Regions from separate parts of the Homo sapiens genome. Here region 2 is linked to region 1. A link means that fine-mapping ties the variant in region 1 to the expression of a gene that starts in the linked region. Tissue or cell type: whole blood. Region 1 holds a variant in brackets; the other region holds the start of a gene. All regions are shown on one strand. Distances are from middle to middle.

Evidence for each region. PIP is the estimated chance that this variant, and not a neighbour inherited with it, causes the effect.
Region 2: it holds the start of GLB1, and the variant in region 1 is fine-mapped to the expression of GLB1 in whole blood (TOPMed, PIP 0.95).

What each region holds. Positions count from the first base shown.
Region 1 is chr3:33,002,799-33,010,904 of GRCh38, forward strand. All of the region lies in intron 15 of GLB1 (galactosidase beta 1), which reads right to left. Among named protein-coding and RNA genes, the nearest start is that of CCR4, 55 kb to the left of the region's middle. The variant G/T (reference allele first, on the strand shown) is at 3,372.
Region 2 is chr3:33,093,291-33,101,396 of GRCh38, forward strand. It overlaps GLB1 (galactosidase beta 1), which reads right to left and starts at 3,856. Exons shown (of 16, transcript NM_000404.4): 1 at 3,721-3,856. The coding sequence starts at 3,795. TMPPE (transmembrane protein with metallophosphoesterase domain) reads right to left here and starts at 3,856. Exons shown (of 2, transcript NM_001039770.3): 1 at 3,429-3,856; 2 at 1-1,013. The coding sequence starts at 905. RefSeq lists a silencer at 3,444-4,053.

The DNA.
Region 1 (8,106 bases):
TTTGTCACACTCTGAAAGAAAACATTTAGACACTTGCAGGACTTAAAATGGGAAAGACAAAGGTCCAGTTCCCAAGGTTAAAGGCTCTCACACACCGAACTCATGAATCACTGTGATGCTTACCTGGGAGAAAGAGAAGAAAAAGAGGAGAATTGAAAAGAAAAAAAGGTAAAAGCCTCTTACAAGGCTTGCTTAGAAATAAGAGGTTAAATAGATCTCAATGAAATACACAGAAGATTAATTCTCCCCTTCCTTCAGAACCCCAAAAGGCTCTGCAGCTGACGCAAATCACACTTTTTTGCTTCCTCCTCAGTCTTAAAGTAATAAAATTAAATAACTTTATGGTTTCTCTATATTTTGGGACAGGTCCAAATAGAACTGAAGCCATCAAATGCATAAAATAACAGCATAAAAGATAAATCACTTCTCATCAAATCCCAAATAAAAATTCTTTTTCCTTCTCAACTTCCAACAGTTCCACCATAGCTAGACCTTTTTAATACAATAGCTTACCTAACAACAGTCGTCAAACCACCTCACGTATCTGGAACCAAGCTAGGAACTGATAAGCAAAAACTACTGCCTCATGTCATATTTGTTATAAAGTTCACAACCTAAAAATTGAAGAAGACCTTCTTTCACTTCTAGCCTATTTACCCATTTACAAAAGTTCTAACAAGTTTTGTTGCTAAATTAACATAATATTTGTTGAGAGTAGTCTGATGGTCTAGTTTCAAAGTTCACGGGACTTGTGCAACTGGAAACAGTGAATTAGACGGAAATAGTAGGTCTTGTAGGAGGTAAGCATAACTGCAAATTAGACAAAAAAGAAGTTTAACAAGCACATCAAATTTAGGATGAAAGTAGGGTCCAATAGTGTTAAGACCTGTGGGATATTGAACAGATGGCCCCAATTATTAGTGGGTCCCTCTATCAAGAAGTAGAATCTGTCTGGGCATGGTGGCTCACTCCTGTAATCCCAGCACTTTGGGAGGCCAAGGTGGGTGGATCACCTGAGGTCAGGAGTTCCAGACCAGCCTGGCCTACATGGTGAAACCCCATCTCTACTAAAAATACAAAAATCAGCCAGGTATGGTGGTGTGCACCTGTAATCCCAGCTACTCAGGAGGCTGAGGCAGGAGAATCGCTTGAACCTGGGAGGCGGAGGTTGCAATGAGCTGAGATCGTGTCGCTGCACTCCAGCTTGGGCAACAGAGTGAGACTCCATTTCAAAAAAAAAAAGGGGTAGAACATGTTTCTCCATTCCTTGGATCTGGCTGGTCTAGTGACATATTTTGGCCAAACAACGTGGAAGAAGTGACATGTGAATCCTGACTTTGGCCTTAAGGAGCCTTGCGCATTTGCATTCTTTCTTTGAACCCTGCTCAGTCGTGTGAACCCTGCTAGTCATGTGAACAAGCCTAGGCTAGCTTGCTGGATGATGAAAGAGAGATGGTCTCATCTTCTCTGTTGCCTCAGCTGACAGATGGCTAACACCCAGGTGGTCATGCCCAGCTGAGACCAGCAAAACCACTACTTGGTCTGCCAATACTCAAAATCGTGAACTAAATAAACTGTTGTCGTTTTAATCCACTAAGTTTTGGGTGGCTCGTTATGCAGCAGAAGCTAACTGATACACATCTCCATGGTCAGAAGGTGCCTAAGCATGCTACTTTTCAGGAAAGTGAGTGACGTTTAAAAACTCAATTTAAAAATAGTAGAGCCATCCACTACTTAGTCAGTCCCACTTTCACTGATCAATCACCAAATCCCACTGGGGCTTCCTCAGCCATGTCTGTGCCTTTCTCAGGATTGCTGAGAACAGCTGGGTGAGAAGACACCTGTGAGCACTCAGTACTGTAGCCAGCACATGGTAAGCTCTCAGATGTGGCTGGTACTATTACTATTTCCTGAAGCTGGACCGCCCTCCCTCCCTACTGCCACACTCAAGTCCAGCTCTGTTCCTTCTCTCTGGACCACTTCTCCAGCAGAAGAGTAGCTTTCAGGGGTAACAGGGAGAGAGTTCTGTTTTATACCTATCAGGCTGGAGGTGCCTATGAGACCCCCAAAGGTGGGCTCCAGAGCCTTGTAAGAGCTGAGCTGGAAAAGGAAATGTAAGCATGTCCAGCACATCTGTGAGGACAATCCCCAAAAGTGTAAGAAGAGAGCCCAGGACCAAGTCCTGAGGACTGCAACATAGAAGCTGACAGAGAAGCCTGAGAAGGAGCAAAGAGAGGGAAGAAAACCAGGAGAAGTTTGGGCACGCAAGTCAGGAGAAGCAATCCCCCCACCTCTCACCAAGTAGCTGGGACTGCAGGTGCCATCATGCCCTTGTAACTATCCTATGGTTATCTAGGGGCTCCATCCTAAGTCGCCTCATTAGCACAAACCCAGGTGGGATTGAAAGAGGCTAGTTATGAATAACAAAAGACACTCCTACCACTCAGAAAATTCCAAGGGTTTTAGGGCCCTGGAACCAGGGACAAAGACCAAATATATTTCTTACTATACTATTCCCTTGAAAAATATCAATCCCTCTGCACAAAATATCCTTCCCACTAGGAAGACCAGACCTTTCCCAGCAATCTTAAGCACTTATAATTTCTTCCTCTCCAAGGCCCAACTGCATGGTTTACATATCTCTTACAGACTCTTATAATCCTCTTGGGCTCTTTCTATACCTCTGTCTCTCCAAATGGATTGAGACCAAGTGACTAACACTGATAAGGTTTTAAAAGTTTTACATACTCTTTTCTGGCATAATCATGTCTCAGTGCAGCCTTGATTTGCTGGGCTCAAGCAATCCTCCCATCTCCCACCAAGTAGCTGGGACTACAGGTGCATGCCACCAAGCCCAGCTAATTCAAAAATTTTTTTTGTAGAGATGAGGTCTTATTAAGTTGCCTAGGCTGGTCTCAAACCCCTGAGCTCAAGTGATCCTACCACCTCGGTCTCCCAAAGGGCTAGGATTACAGGTGTGAGCCATCGCGTCGGCCAGGAAATTTCAAAAGCAAGATGCAACAAACAGTTAAAAGAAGGAATTTCTTTCAACCGTTTATCATACATTGTTTTATTTCATAGTTATTTTACATCTTGAAGGTGGGACAATTTATCTTTAAAATACAGAATTACTTTTCATCAGTATTCTATTTTGATTCTTGACTCTTCAAAGCATAATTTTGGTTAAGGAAAAATGGACACTATCCCACTCACACCATGCTCTGTCATGCACCTAAACCTACCACAAAATGTTGAAGGCTGCATAGGATATTGACAGGAGACTTATCCACACCCAGCTGAAAGAGAGATAAATAGCACAAGCACTGCTGCAGTGGCAGAACATGACATTTCAGGTTTGGCATATAGCAGGG[G/T]TCCCCAAACCCCAGGCCACAGACTGGTCTGCGGCCTGTTAGGAACCGGGCCGCACAGTGAGAGGTGAGCGAGCATTACTGCCTGAGCGCCACCTCCTGTCAGATCGGCAGCAGCATCAGATTCTCATAGGAGCAGGAACCCTATTGTGAACTGCGCACGCGAGGGATATAGGCTGTGCACTCCTTATGAGAATCTAACTAATGCCTGATGATTTGAGGTGGAACAGTTTCATCCCAAAACCATTTCCACCCCCCCACCCCTGACCACACAGTCCATGGAAACAGTGTCTTCCACGAAACTAGTCCCTGATACCAACAAGGTTGGGGACCACTGGCATACAGGACATATTGTGGAAAGCACTGGAGAAGAACGCTTCCTATCTAATGGACTTTCCAGTCAGATAAGAACTCAGTGAGGTCAAAGCATTGCCCTGTGTCTGCTGGACAGAGCAGAACATGCCTGACCCCTTTCTACTGAAGTCCCAGTTGATATTCATTCACATCTGGCATTAACCAGAAAGCCACATCCGACTCAAGTAAAGCCAGTGTAAACAAAAGTGATTTTTTAATCTTATGAATCGCCCTTATCAGTGACTTTGCTCTCTAAATCAAGGTAGTTTCTTTACAGTAAAATGAATAGGAAGAGCATAGAGTCCTGTGCCAGGGCCTTTGACAAGGGCCTCTCCTGATGAAGGATGTGGGGGTTAGTGCACAGCCTTAGAAACAGCTGGGGCTTCAGGGATCATTTTGTCCAACCCCACACCGCAACTGCCAGCTCCCTGCATTCAAACCATGTGCTAACGTGCTCATTCTTTCAAATGTCAGAGCTTAGCACTCAGTGTGGGAGTGGGATCTGCCTGTTCTGAGGTGGCTGATCATTTAGAAGCCCCAGAGCTGGCCTGGGACTGTCCCCAGCAGCAGGGACCACTGTGCACCAGAAAACAGAAACCACATTGGTTCTGTGTTAGGTAGGATGTGTGTGTACCCTTGGACCTTCACACGCATTCAGTCCAAAGTCCACAAACTTCTTGGATGGGCCTTGTGTGTGGCACTTTATTGACATAGAATTCATATACCATACAATTCAGCAGTCTTTAGTATACTACAGAGCTGCACAACCATTACCAAAGTCAATTATAGAACATTTCGTCACTCCGTTAAGAAGCCCTGTACCCTTTAACATTCTCTTCCCATCCAACCAACACTCTCTTTTCCCTGCTCTAGGCAATCACAGATCTTCCTGTCTATATGAATTTGCCTGTTCCGGACATTTCATGTAAATGGAATCATGCAACATACAGTCCTTTGTGACTGGCGTCTTTCATTAGCCTAATGTTTTCAAAATTCTTCCATGTTGTAACATGTATCAATACTTCATTTCTTTTTATTGCTGAATCATATTCCATTGTATGGATGTACTACATTTCGTTTATTCATTCCTCAGCTGATGGACATTTGGGCTGTTTCCACCTTTTGGCAATTATGGATAACGGTGCAATGAACAGTTGTGTACAAGTGTTTGAGTGGACATATGGATTAGATGGGCTTTTGGGGGTCTGAACCCTTTGACACATTCACAAATACTGTGTGGAGATGTACTTTCAAGCCTGGAGATGCAGAGCATTCATCAGACTGACCAAATAAGTAAAGAGCCCCAGCCTAGATAATGAGTATGAGTTCCTCACCGGTTCTCAATGCTGCCTGCTTTTTCACATGGGCCTTCAAGACACGGCTGGGGCTCAGGTAGATGTGCCACTGAGCACTTCTGTACCTCGTACAAGTTACTTAGCTATCTAAGCCTCCAGCTACTCATCTGCAAACTGGAGATAATGATCCATCTACCACAGGTGCCTCTTTTGATGGCTACGGAGATAGTGTCTATAAAGCGTTGAGCAGAACGCCTGGGTCAGTAACTCTTGCGTGTGACACCTTTAAGACTTGGCCAAGATGAACCTCCCTCTGACCTCCAACACATCCCACACTTTTCCATTGGTCTCTACTGCATTAGGAGGGGAGAAAAAGAGGGATCGAGGGAACAAGAACTTGCTAGCTAAAGGGGGAAGATCCAGGGAGGGCTTTCTTTGTGTTTAGGTCCTAGAGCTCCTAGTTACCACTTTTTGGCTGAAAAATGGGACTCGGCAGAAAGATGGAGAGGCTGACAAAATGCAGGTAGAGGAAATATGAGAACAGGATCTTGCCCTGAAGGAAGAAGGTGGGGAGGAGATTCAGAATTCAGACTTCCTCCTAGATACCACTGGGCAGGAAATGAGGTTGGAGGCAGAGAGATAAGTCTGACAGGAAGCTGAGGGAACAAAGGAGTTACACCTGATAGCAGTCAAGGAGGATGAGGTCTTCAGTGGAGAGGGTGGAGAGTCAGGTGGCTTAAGGAGGGTGCTGAAGGTTGAAAAGGCCAGTGGGGGAAAGGAGCAGAGAGAGACCAAGGACTGCTGGGCAAATCTGAGGGCTTCTGGAGGCTGGCAACAATGAGGGGATGGTAGCCACGATGAATGCGCTGAGAAGTCCCTTAGCTGTGCTCAGTGACTGGTGAACCAGCAGAGACACCAGTAGTGGATCCATTCTACATGGAGGAGGAATGAAGGAGGCAGAGTAGAAGGCCAAAGGGGCAAGGGGGCAGGTGGACTGATGACTCTTAAAAAAAGATCGTGGTGGCCGGGCGCAGTGGTTCACGCCTGTAATCCCAGCACTCTGGGAGGCCGAGGCAGGCAGATCACCTGACGTCGGGAGTTTGAGACTGGCCTGACCAACATGGAGAAACCCCGTCTCTACTAAAAATACAAAATTAGCCAGGCGTGGTGGTGCATGCCTGTAATCCCAGCTACATGGGAGGCTGAGGCAGGAGAATCGCTTGAACCTGGGAGGCGGAGGTTGCAGTGAGCCAAGATTGTGCCACTGTACTCCAGCCTGGGCAACAAGAATGAAACTCCATCTTAAAAAATAAATAAATAAATAAATAAATAAATAAATAAAAAAGATTGTGGTAAGGCCTAGGCTTGGTAGAGGAAGAACTGCAGCCTTAATGGTGGAATGTTTCAGGTCATTAATAAGATTTAAGGCCGGGTGCAGTGGTTCATGCCTGTAATCCCAGCACTTCGGGAGGCCAAGGCAGGTGGACCACGAGGTCAGGAGTTCAAGACCAGCCTGGCCAACACGGTGAAACCCCATCTCTACTAAAAACACAAAAATCAGCCAAGTGTGGTGGGGGGTGCCTGTAATCCCAGCTACTCGAGAGGCTGAGACAGGAGGATCACTTGAACCCAGGAGGCGGAGGTTGCAGTGAGCCGAGATTGTGCCATTGCACTCCAGCCTGGGTGACAAGAGCAAGACTGTCTCAAAAAAATAAAAAAAAAGATTTAAGAGCAAGGTTGGTAGGCATGAGAGTTTGGTGCATAGAAACATGCAGCCAGAGAGAGGATATTAAAGCCTAAAATTCCAAAGGTATGTTCAGCAAGATATATGCCTGTGCTGGGCCATAAAACAAGTCTAAATACATTTAAGAAGACTGTGCAGCCATCATTCAAGTTAGTTTCAGAGCATATCCATCAGCTCCAATAGAAACCCCATGCCCACTTAACAGTCACGCTCCATTCCCACCCTCAGCCCTAGGCAACCAGTAAGCTACTATCTCTATGGATTTGCCTTTTCTGAACATTTCATATAAATGGAGTCATACAATACATAGCCTTTTAGTTTTGGCTTCTTTTACTTAGCATAATATTTTTCCAATTCATCTGGATTGTGGCATGTTATCAGTACTCCATTCCTTTTTATTGAGGAATCGTATGGATATACATGCTTTCTCCACTTGTCAGGTGATAGACATCTGAATTAATTCCAACTTACAGTTATTATAATACTGCTATAAACACTTGCATGTAAGTTTTTATGTGAACATGTTTTCCTTTCTCTTGTGTATATACCTAGGAGCGGAATTGCTGGGTTCTATGGTAATCTATGTTTAGCCCTTGAAGAAATTGCCAAACTATGCTCCCAAATGTACCTTCTTATCTTTCTACCAGCAATGTGGGAAGATTCCCTTTCCCCCATGTCCTTTCCAACATTGCCTATTGTCCTTCTTACTATTTAGCCATCTTGGTGAGTGTGAAGTAGTATTTCATTTTGGTTTTGACTTGCATTTCCCAAATGATTAATAATGTTGAACATTAATCAGCCACTAATTTTAGTTTATAATAGACATTTTACCAAAGAAGGTATACAAATGCAAATGTACTTAGCCATCTTATGCCTTCTTTGGTAAAATGTCTATTCAAGTTCTTTGCTCCTTTTGTGACTGGGCTGTTTGTCTATTATTGAATTGTAAGAATTCTTTACATATTCTAGATATAAGTCCTTTGTTAGATATATGATTTGAAAATTATTTTTCTCCCAGTTTGTGGCTTGGATTCTCATTTTCCTAATAATGCTTTTTGAAGAACAAATATTTTTAATTCTGATAAAGTCCAATTTATCAATTTTTGTTCTTTAAGGATAATGCCTTAGGTGTCAAATCTAAGAAGTCTTTGCCTAACCCAAGATCATGGAGATTTCTCTCCCTAGAGAGAAATTTTAGAAGTTTTATAGAGGAATTAAGTTACAAATTAATAATTACAAGATATTTTTACAAACCCAAAATATGTGGAAATTAAACAGCATACTTTTTTTGTTTGTTTGTTTTTGTTTTGTTTTTGAGACACAGTCTTGCTTTGTCACCCAGGCT
Region 2 (8,106 bases), 90 kb after region 1:
TTATGAAGAGGCTGGACATGCAGGGATTCCAGAAGTGCAAACCAGTTGCTGACATCTGACGTGTAGTACTCATGATTGCCTGTGACGAAGTAGGCACCGAGATGTGAATGAAGCTGGCCCAGAGGAGCGACAGCCGTCCGCAGGACCGAGGCTTCTGAGTCGGAGAGGTCACCCACAATCACCGTGATGTCTGGTTCCAGCACATTCACCATCCTCACAAACATTTCCATCTTGGTCCTGCCCACTGTGGGGCCCAAGTGAATGTCTGAGAGGAGCACGATCTTGAGGTTGTTCATTGAGGCAGGCAGCTGATGGATGGGCACCTCCACAGTTTTCACAGCCGGGGGCTGCGCGGCATTCAGAATCCCGGCCACGCTGAGCACAGCAGTCACTCCCACTGCCAGGGCAGGCCTGAGCACGAGCTTCCTTGTCTTCTCAAGGCTGCCCACGACCCTACCACTGCGCCAGGCCAAGAGCTGGTAGGCCTGCTCCATGCCGCTGAGGATGAAGAGGAAGAAGAGCATGATGATGTAAGCACCCAGGCAGGAGTAGGCCGCCAAGGAAAAGAGATAGGGCTCTTCGGCCACTAAAAAGAACATGGTAAAGAAACTGGAATGGGCCAGGGCCAGAAATGCCAGAACCACCACCTTCCAAAGCTGAAAACAGGTTGACTCTGCAGCTGGGGAGTGGCAGAGGTTGCTCACTGTGCTGCGCCAAATGTAGAGGGAGCCAATGAGCAAGAGCGAGTTGACAAACAGGGCAAGCTGCAAGCGAAGCAGCCAACGCCAGGCCCTGAGCTCAAGGCTCTCTGCCAGATACGAGCGGGAGGCGATCATGGACACGAAGACAGTGACAGCAGCCAGGGTGGCCTTCGCGCCTAGGGACAGCTGCCTGAAGATGGCCATTTTCTCTGCTCCTAGTAGGCTCCCCCACCAGTTCTGTGCTGGTGGACTCTGGAAATGAGTTCCTTAGAAAGGACAGTGGCCAAGGAGAGGTTTCCAGGTCAACTCCGCCTGCAACCAGGAACCAGCATCAGCTTTGTGGGATATTAGAGTGTCCTTGTACCCATTCAAAACTCAAAGGCCACTTACATCTGCCCAACCCACCTTGAATCCAAGCTACTCAAATACCAGTCAGTTGCTAGCTATACTTTATTATTCAAAAAGAAACTCACAGCATTGTGACATGATGGGCAGTTTTCATTTTCTTACCACATGTTCTATACGTTTAAAGTTTCTCTACAGTAAGCATGTACTTGTTTTATAAAAACATTCCAAATCAGCGGTATTCAAAGTGTGGTCTGGAGAGAGCCCTTCAGGGGTCCAATTAGTCAAAACTATTTTTATTATAATTCCAAGCCATTACTGCCTTTTCCATTCTCACTCTGTCCTGAGGGGGTGGAGTCTTCCAGAGGCTATGTGACATGTGATATGGCAACAGATTTAATGCAGAAATAAACATGAAAATTTGACTGTCTTCTATTAAGAGACATTGAAAGAGATTTGCAGAAATGTAAAACAGTGCAACTCTTCACCCTAAAATTTGGGGAGAAATACTATTGTTTTTCAAATATATATATTGTTTATTAACGTGTAATGATGTAGTATTTCTTAACAAATAGTTTAAAATATTCTCTAGGGCTGGGCACAGTGGCTGACGCCTATAATTCCAGCACTTTGGGAGGCCGAGGCAGGCAGATTACCTGAGGTCAGGAGTTCAAGACCAGCCTGGCCAACATGGTAAAACCCTGTCTCTACTAAAAATTCAAAAATTAGCCAGGCATGGTGGTGGATGCATGTAATCCCAGCTACTCGGGAGGCTGAGGCAGGAGAATCACTTGAACCTGGGAGGTGGAAGTTGTAGTGAGCCAAGATCGTGCCACTGCACTCCAGCCTGGGCAAAAGAGCGAGACTCTGTCTCAAAAAAAAAAAAAAAAAAAAAAAAAGGAATATTCTCTTAATTTCTAGGACAGCTAAAATTTAGTTAAAATTTGAGAACCGCTGGGTCACGAGGTCAGGAGATCGAGACCATCCTGGCTAACATGGTGAAACCCCGTCTCTACTAAAAATACAAAAAAAGAAAAAAATTAGTCGGGTGTGATGGCGGGCGCCTGTAGTCCCAGCTACTCGGGAGGCTGAGGCAGGAGAATGGCGTGAACCCTAAAGAAATGTAAACAAGGAGATAATGGAAAGCTAGACTGCTGGTATCTTTCTTTAGCTGTGGGCACAGAAGCCCAAGAGGGACACCTAGGCACCTGAAATGAGAATTCCTGGGGTGATGCCAGCCTCCCTGTGTGGGCCTCAGGTATGGCAGCCACAGGGCATCCACCCTGACCCAATGACGCTGCACAAGACTGATGAGCTCACATCAGACAGATTGACCCTGTCCACCTGTTCCTGGTTCATAAATCCTTCTCTCTCTCCCTACCCCCACTCCCAGATACTGGTTAAGATCTGCCTTTCCCCTAGCCCCTTACCCTGCCACTGTTCTCCTGAACTGTGCCCCAGTTCCACCTTCCCCAGTGGTTCTCACAGCTGGCTAGCTCTGACTCCTAAGGTCCTACGGGCCTTCTGGACAAGAAAACTCTGTCTACATACTGGGGTAGGGGAACCACAGACGGGGTGAAGAGGGAGCAGCAAATAATCTGTGCTGACTTTTTCCCAAAATGAAAACATTTTCAGCAGCTGTTTTCCAAATACTTAAGATGTTCAATCTTGGTTGTAGATAAATGTACCACTTTTCTCTGCCCTAGGCACGTTATTGAAAGCGTTATTAAAGGGTGTAACTTACAAGTCAACGGTGTCAAATGCTACCAGCTCTTACTTAAAGCATACTGCAGGCTCAGCCCACCTACACCCTGGAGGAACCAAAGTTGGTCCGCGGAACGTGCAGAGGAGCAGCTTGCAACTACCCACTCTCCTTTCCGCAGGTGTGATGCAAACCTCCCCAGGCAGCGCTTTGGAGCCCCTCAGCCAGTCGCCTCAGCTCGGACGCAGCGAGTGAAGCTGTCCTTCCTCTCCCACCAACTGTGCACGCCCCGCACCTCACCTATTCGCCTCGCCAGCCCTGCCCCGATCAACGATGGCATCCCCCGGCAGCCTGCCTATTCCCCCCCTCAACCTGGACCCCCAAACGCCGAAGGAAAACGGTCCCACAAATACAAAGAAAAACCCAAGCCAAAGGGCAGGCGACGGGGAGTGGTGAGAAAGGAACAAGATGCACGAAGAGGGAGAGCACCCAGAGGGGAAATAACCCAATGTTCCCACTGCAAGGGCCTCTCCTGACCCCATTTTTCTCCTTCCGGAGCGCTCCGCAGAGCACCAACTGGGAAAGCGAGGGCGCCCCAAACCAGAGCCGGAGGCACCCTCTAACCCGCGCAACTTGGAATCCCCTCCCGGAAAGCCAACTTAGGAAATGTTTACACGCACCTCGTCTCAACACCTCGTTACAGATGGGGAAGTGGATCCAAGCGCAAAGGGCGGCCGGAGCGGAACGCACAAGCGACCGAGCTGCCTGGAAGGACGCGCGCCCCGCCCGGCCCGCCCCCGACGGGAAGGCCGGTCCACTGCCTGCGTTCCGCCGGCCGCGAGCCTGCTGGGGGGCACTTCGGGGCTCAGGCTCCCCGCCCTGCGGGACCGCGGGTGGCTGCGACCCCAGCCCGGTTCCCCGCCAGCCTGTCCCCTAGCAATGCCTCCCCGTACCCGGGTCCCGCAGACTTACGCGCAAGCCGCGCGTAGGGCCCAGAAGCAGCAGAACCAGCAACAGAGGGAGGATGCGAACCAGGAACCCCGGCATGACCACCAGCCTCCCGGCTCTGCAGTCGGCGCCCAGGCCGGCCGCTTCGCGTCACTTGACTAAGGACCCACGGCCTGGCACCGCCCCTCGTCGGCCCAGCAGCCAGCCCTCGCGCCTGCTCAGCCCCGCGCCCCGCCCCGCTGTGGCCGAGCCGGGCGGGTGGGGGCGGCTAGGAGGCTGCGCGCCGCCGCGTGACTCCAGGATAGTACTATCTGGGTTTTGCAGGCGTCTTCCCTGGGAAGGGACCCTTTGGAACTGCAGTCCGGAGGGCCTGCTTTCAGCAGCTTGATAACGCGCCTCGGGGATTGGACATGAATCATGGTCTCCCTGTTCCCTGGCTGCCTTGAGAGAGCAGAAGAGGGAAATTGTTAATCATTAAACCTAAACGCCCTAGATGGAATCCGCGTCTCATATACGGGCTCTTTGAATAACTCTAAGCCGGGGGTTAGCAAAATGTGGTCGGTCCCTGGAGCCACTGTATCAACTCACCTGGAACTTGTTAGAATGAAAATCCTGCTCACGCCTGTAATCCCAGCACTTTGGGAGGCCGAGGCGGGCGGATCGCCTGAGGTCAGGAGTTCCAGACCAGCCTGACCAGTATGATGAAACCCCGTCTCTACTAAAAATACAAAAATTAGCCGGGCGTGGTGGCAGGCGCCTGTAATCCCAGCTACTGAGGAGGCTGAGACAGGAGAATCGCTTGAACCCGGGAGGTGGAGGTTGCAGTAAACCGAGATCGAGCCATTGCGCTCCAGCCTGGGCAATAAGAGCGAAATTCCGTATCAAAAAAAAATTTTCTTTTTTAAAATAACCTTAGTTTATGCCTTGGTGTTCCAAAAAGCCTTTTTACATTGTATAACAAAGTAGCCAAAATTCTATTTGTTCACTCCTTTCTCCTTTCCTACCGGACATGTCCTTGAGAGATTGAGAAAGTATCAGAAAGGACATTTCATTGAGAGATTGAGAAAGTATCAGTTACTGGCTTTTCTTAGGTTTTTGTTTTTTGGTTTGGGGGGTTGTTTTTTTGTTTTGTTTTTGTGTTTTTTGAGACAGGGTCTCACTCTGTCACCCAGGCTGGAGTGGGGCGCAATCACGGCTTACTGCAGCTTTGGCCTCCTGGGCTCAAGCAATTCTCCCGTCTCAGCCTACCAAGTGGCTGGGACTACAGGCGTGCGCCACCACACCCGGCTAATTTTTGTATTTTTTGTAGAGACAGGGTCTCACCACGTTTCCCAGGCAGGTCTTGAAGTTCTGGGATCAAGCAATCTACCTGCCTGGAACTCCCAAAATGCTGGAATTACAGACATGAGCCACCGTGCCTGGCTTCTTTTCATGCCTGTAGTACCAATTCCGTGTCCTTGCACTGTGAAGTCCTTTCCAAGCTCTGCAATTCTAGTTCAGTATTAAAGAACAAGGGCTCTGGAGGAAGTACACTTGAGTTGGAATTCCAGCTCTGCCACTTACTGTCTGTGTAACTGTGGGCAAATTACTTAACCTCTCTGAGCTTAGTTTCTTTGTTGGTAAAGCAGGGCTAATAATATCAAATTCACTGGATAATTGGGGAAATTACCAGAGATGATGACGATAAGAAGCTTGGTATATACAGGATGTTAGTGGGACAGTTGATGAAATCAGAATTAGACTTGTAGGTTAGATTAGTACCATGCATCAATGTTAATTTCCTTTTTGGGGGGGTGGGGGGACAGAGTCTCACTCTGTCACCCAGGCTGGAGTGCAGTGGCACAATCTCGGCTCACTGCAACCTCCGCCTCCCAGGTTCAAGTGATTCTCCCACCTCAGCCTCCAAAGTAGCTGGGATTACAGGCACCCACCACTAGGCTTGGCTAATTTTTGTATTTTTAGTAGAGATGGGGTATCACCATGTTAGCCAGGCTGGTCTGGAGCTCTTGACCTCAAGTGATTTGCCCACCTCGGCCTCCCAAAGTGCTGGGATTACAGGCATGAGCCACTGTGCCCGGCCGCATCAATGTTAACTTTCTGATTTTGATAATGGTACACGGTCTAAATATTAAATAATAGTTTTGTATTAGTGTATTGATTTGGGTAACGGTAATGGTAATTTTGGTAATGGTTATATAAAAGAACATCCTTGTTTTTTAGGAAACAAAAGGGCATCATCTTTGCAACTGATTCTCAAACAGTTCACAAAAAAAAATGGAGAGAGAGAGAAAGAGAGAGAGAGAGAGGGAGAGAAATGGTATTCCAGGCATGAAAAGAACGTGAGAAAGAAAAGCAAATGTGGTAAAATGTTAACATTTGGAAAATCAATGAAGGAATTATTTTTACTCTTTTTTTCAACTTTTTGTTTCTAAGCCTGAAATTATTGCAGAACGAAGTTTAAAAACAAAACAAAACAAAAATCCTTAACACATGGCAGATTCAACTTCTTCTACCTTCTTTCCTACTCTGTACACTCAGGGTTATCATATGCAATAGGTATTTTTAACTGAACTGAGGTAGAAAGGGTTTAGAGCAGGAGTTGGCAAACTAAGGGCAGAGGATCAAATCTGGCCTGCTGCCTGTTTTTCTTTTTCTTTTTAAAATTCTTTTTACTAAGAATCGGCACAATTTGCTGCCAGTTTTTCTATGGCCTGCCACCTAAAAATGGTTTTTACATTTTTAAATGAATGAAAAAAAATCAAAAGAATAATATTTTATGACATTTGAAAATGTTGTAAGTTTCCTGTGTCAGTGTCCATAAATAAAGTTTTGTGGGGTTGGTTTTTGTTTTTTTTGTTTTGTTTTGTTTTTTTAGACACAGTCTTGCTCTGTCACCCAGGCTGGAGTGCAGTGGTGCAATCATAGCTCACAGCAGCCTTGAACTCCTGAGCTGAAGCAGTCGTCCCATGTCGGCCTCCTGAGTAGCTAAGTAGCTGGGACTACAGGCGAGTGCCACCATGCCTGAATAATTTTTTTTTTTCTAAAGACAAGATCTTGCCTTGTTGCCAGGGTTGGTCTTGAACTCCTGGCCTCAAGTAATCTGCCCACTTTGGCTGCCAAAGTGCCAAGATTACACATAAATAGTTTTCTTAGAACACAGCCACCTATAATCCTCTGCATATTGCATATGGTTGCTTTCACGCTACAACGGTAGAATGGAGTAGTTGCAACACAGATCTTAGGACCTACAAAACTGAATATATTTATGTTCTAGCCCTTTACAGTATAAGCTTGCCAAAGGAATATAGATTGTAGATTGTTTCTGAGATTTTTAGTATTTGACTATGTTTGTAGTTGAAATGGCAATAGTAGTAATAGCCATTGTTGTGCTGAATGCTTTACCAGTATGTGTCACTATTCCTCCCAATCCGAGCTGCATGCTCTTATCCACATTTCACAGATGAGAAAGCTGAGACCCAGAGGAGTTAAATGACTTGCCAGTAGCCACAGAGCTGGGGAGCAGTAGAGTCTCTAAAGTTACATTGCCTGACGTTAGGGCCTGAGTTATTTTCACAAGGCTATGCTTCTGCTCATAGTGTACTGTTTGGTTCCCATTTAAATGCACAGACAGAGTGTGCTGGATGCAAAGCCCCCTGCATACTGGAGAATATGAAGGGACCATGAGAAGGCTGTCACCCTGCAGGCACTCATCTCTAAACATGGTACATGCTCTAATATAGACTAATACTTCTCAGAGTCTGATCCTTAGACCAGTGCTGTGCAATAAGTACAGAAATTCAGCCTAGGCACTTAGAAACTTGCAGCAATTTGAGAAAGTAAGTCTATCTGTTGAATCTAATAATGAACAAAATCATTACGCATCTATTTTTATTTCATTGTTCTAGTAATGTTTTATTTTTATTTTTTTAGACAGAGTTTCGCTTTTATTGCCCAGGCTGGAGTGCAATGGCACGATCTTGGCTCACTGCAACCTCTGCCTCCTGGATTCAAGCGATTCTCCTGCCTCAGCCTCCTGAGTAGCTGGGATTACAGGCATGTGCCACCATGCCCCGCTACTTTTATATTTTCAGTAGAGATGGGGTTTCTCCATGTTGGTCAGGCTGGTCTCAAACTCCTGACCTCAGGTGATCCACCTGCCTCGGCCTCCCAAAGTGCTGGGATTACAGGCGTGAGCCACCACGCCTGGCCTCTAGTAGTTTTTGTTTGTTTGTTTTTGAGACAGAGTTTCACTTTGTCGCCCAGACTGGAGCGCAGTGGCATGATCTTGGCTCACTGCAACCTCCACCTCCTGGGTTCTCGCAATTAAACCTCGGCCTCCTGAGTAGCTGGGACTACAGGCTCACACCACCATGCCAGGCTGATTTTTTCGTATTTTAGTAGAGATGGGGT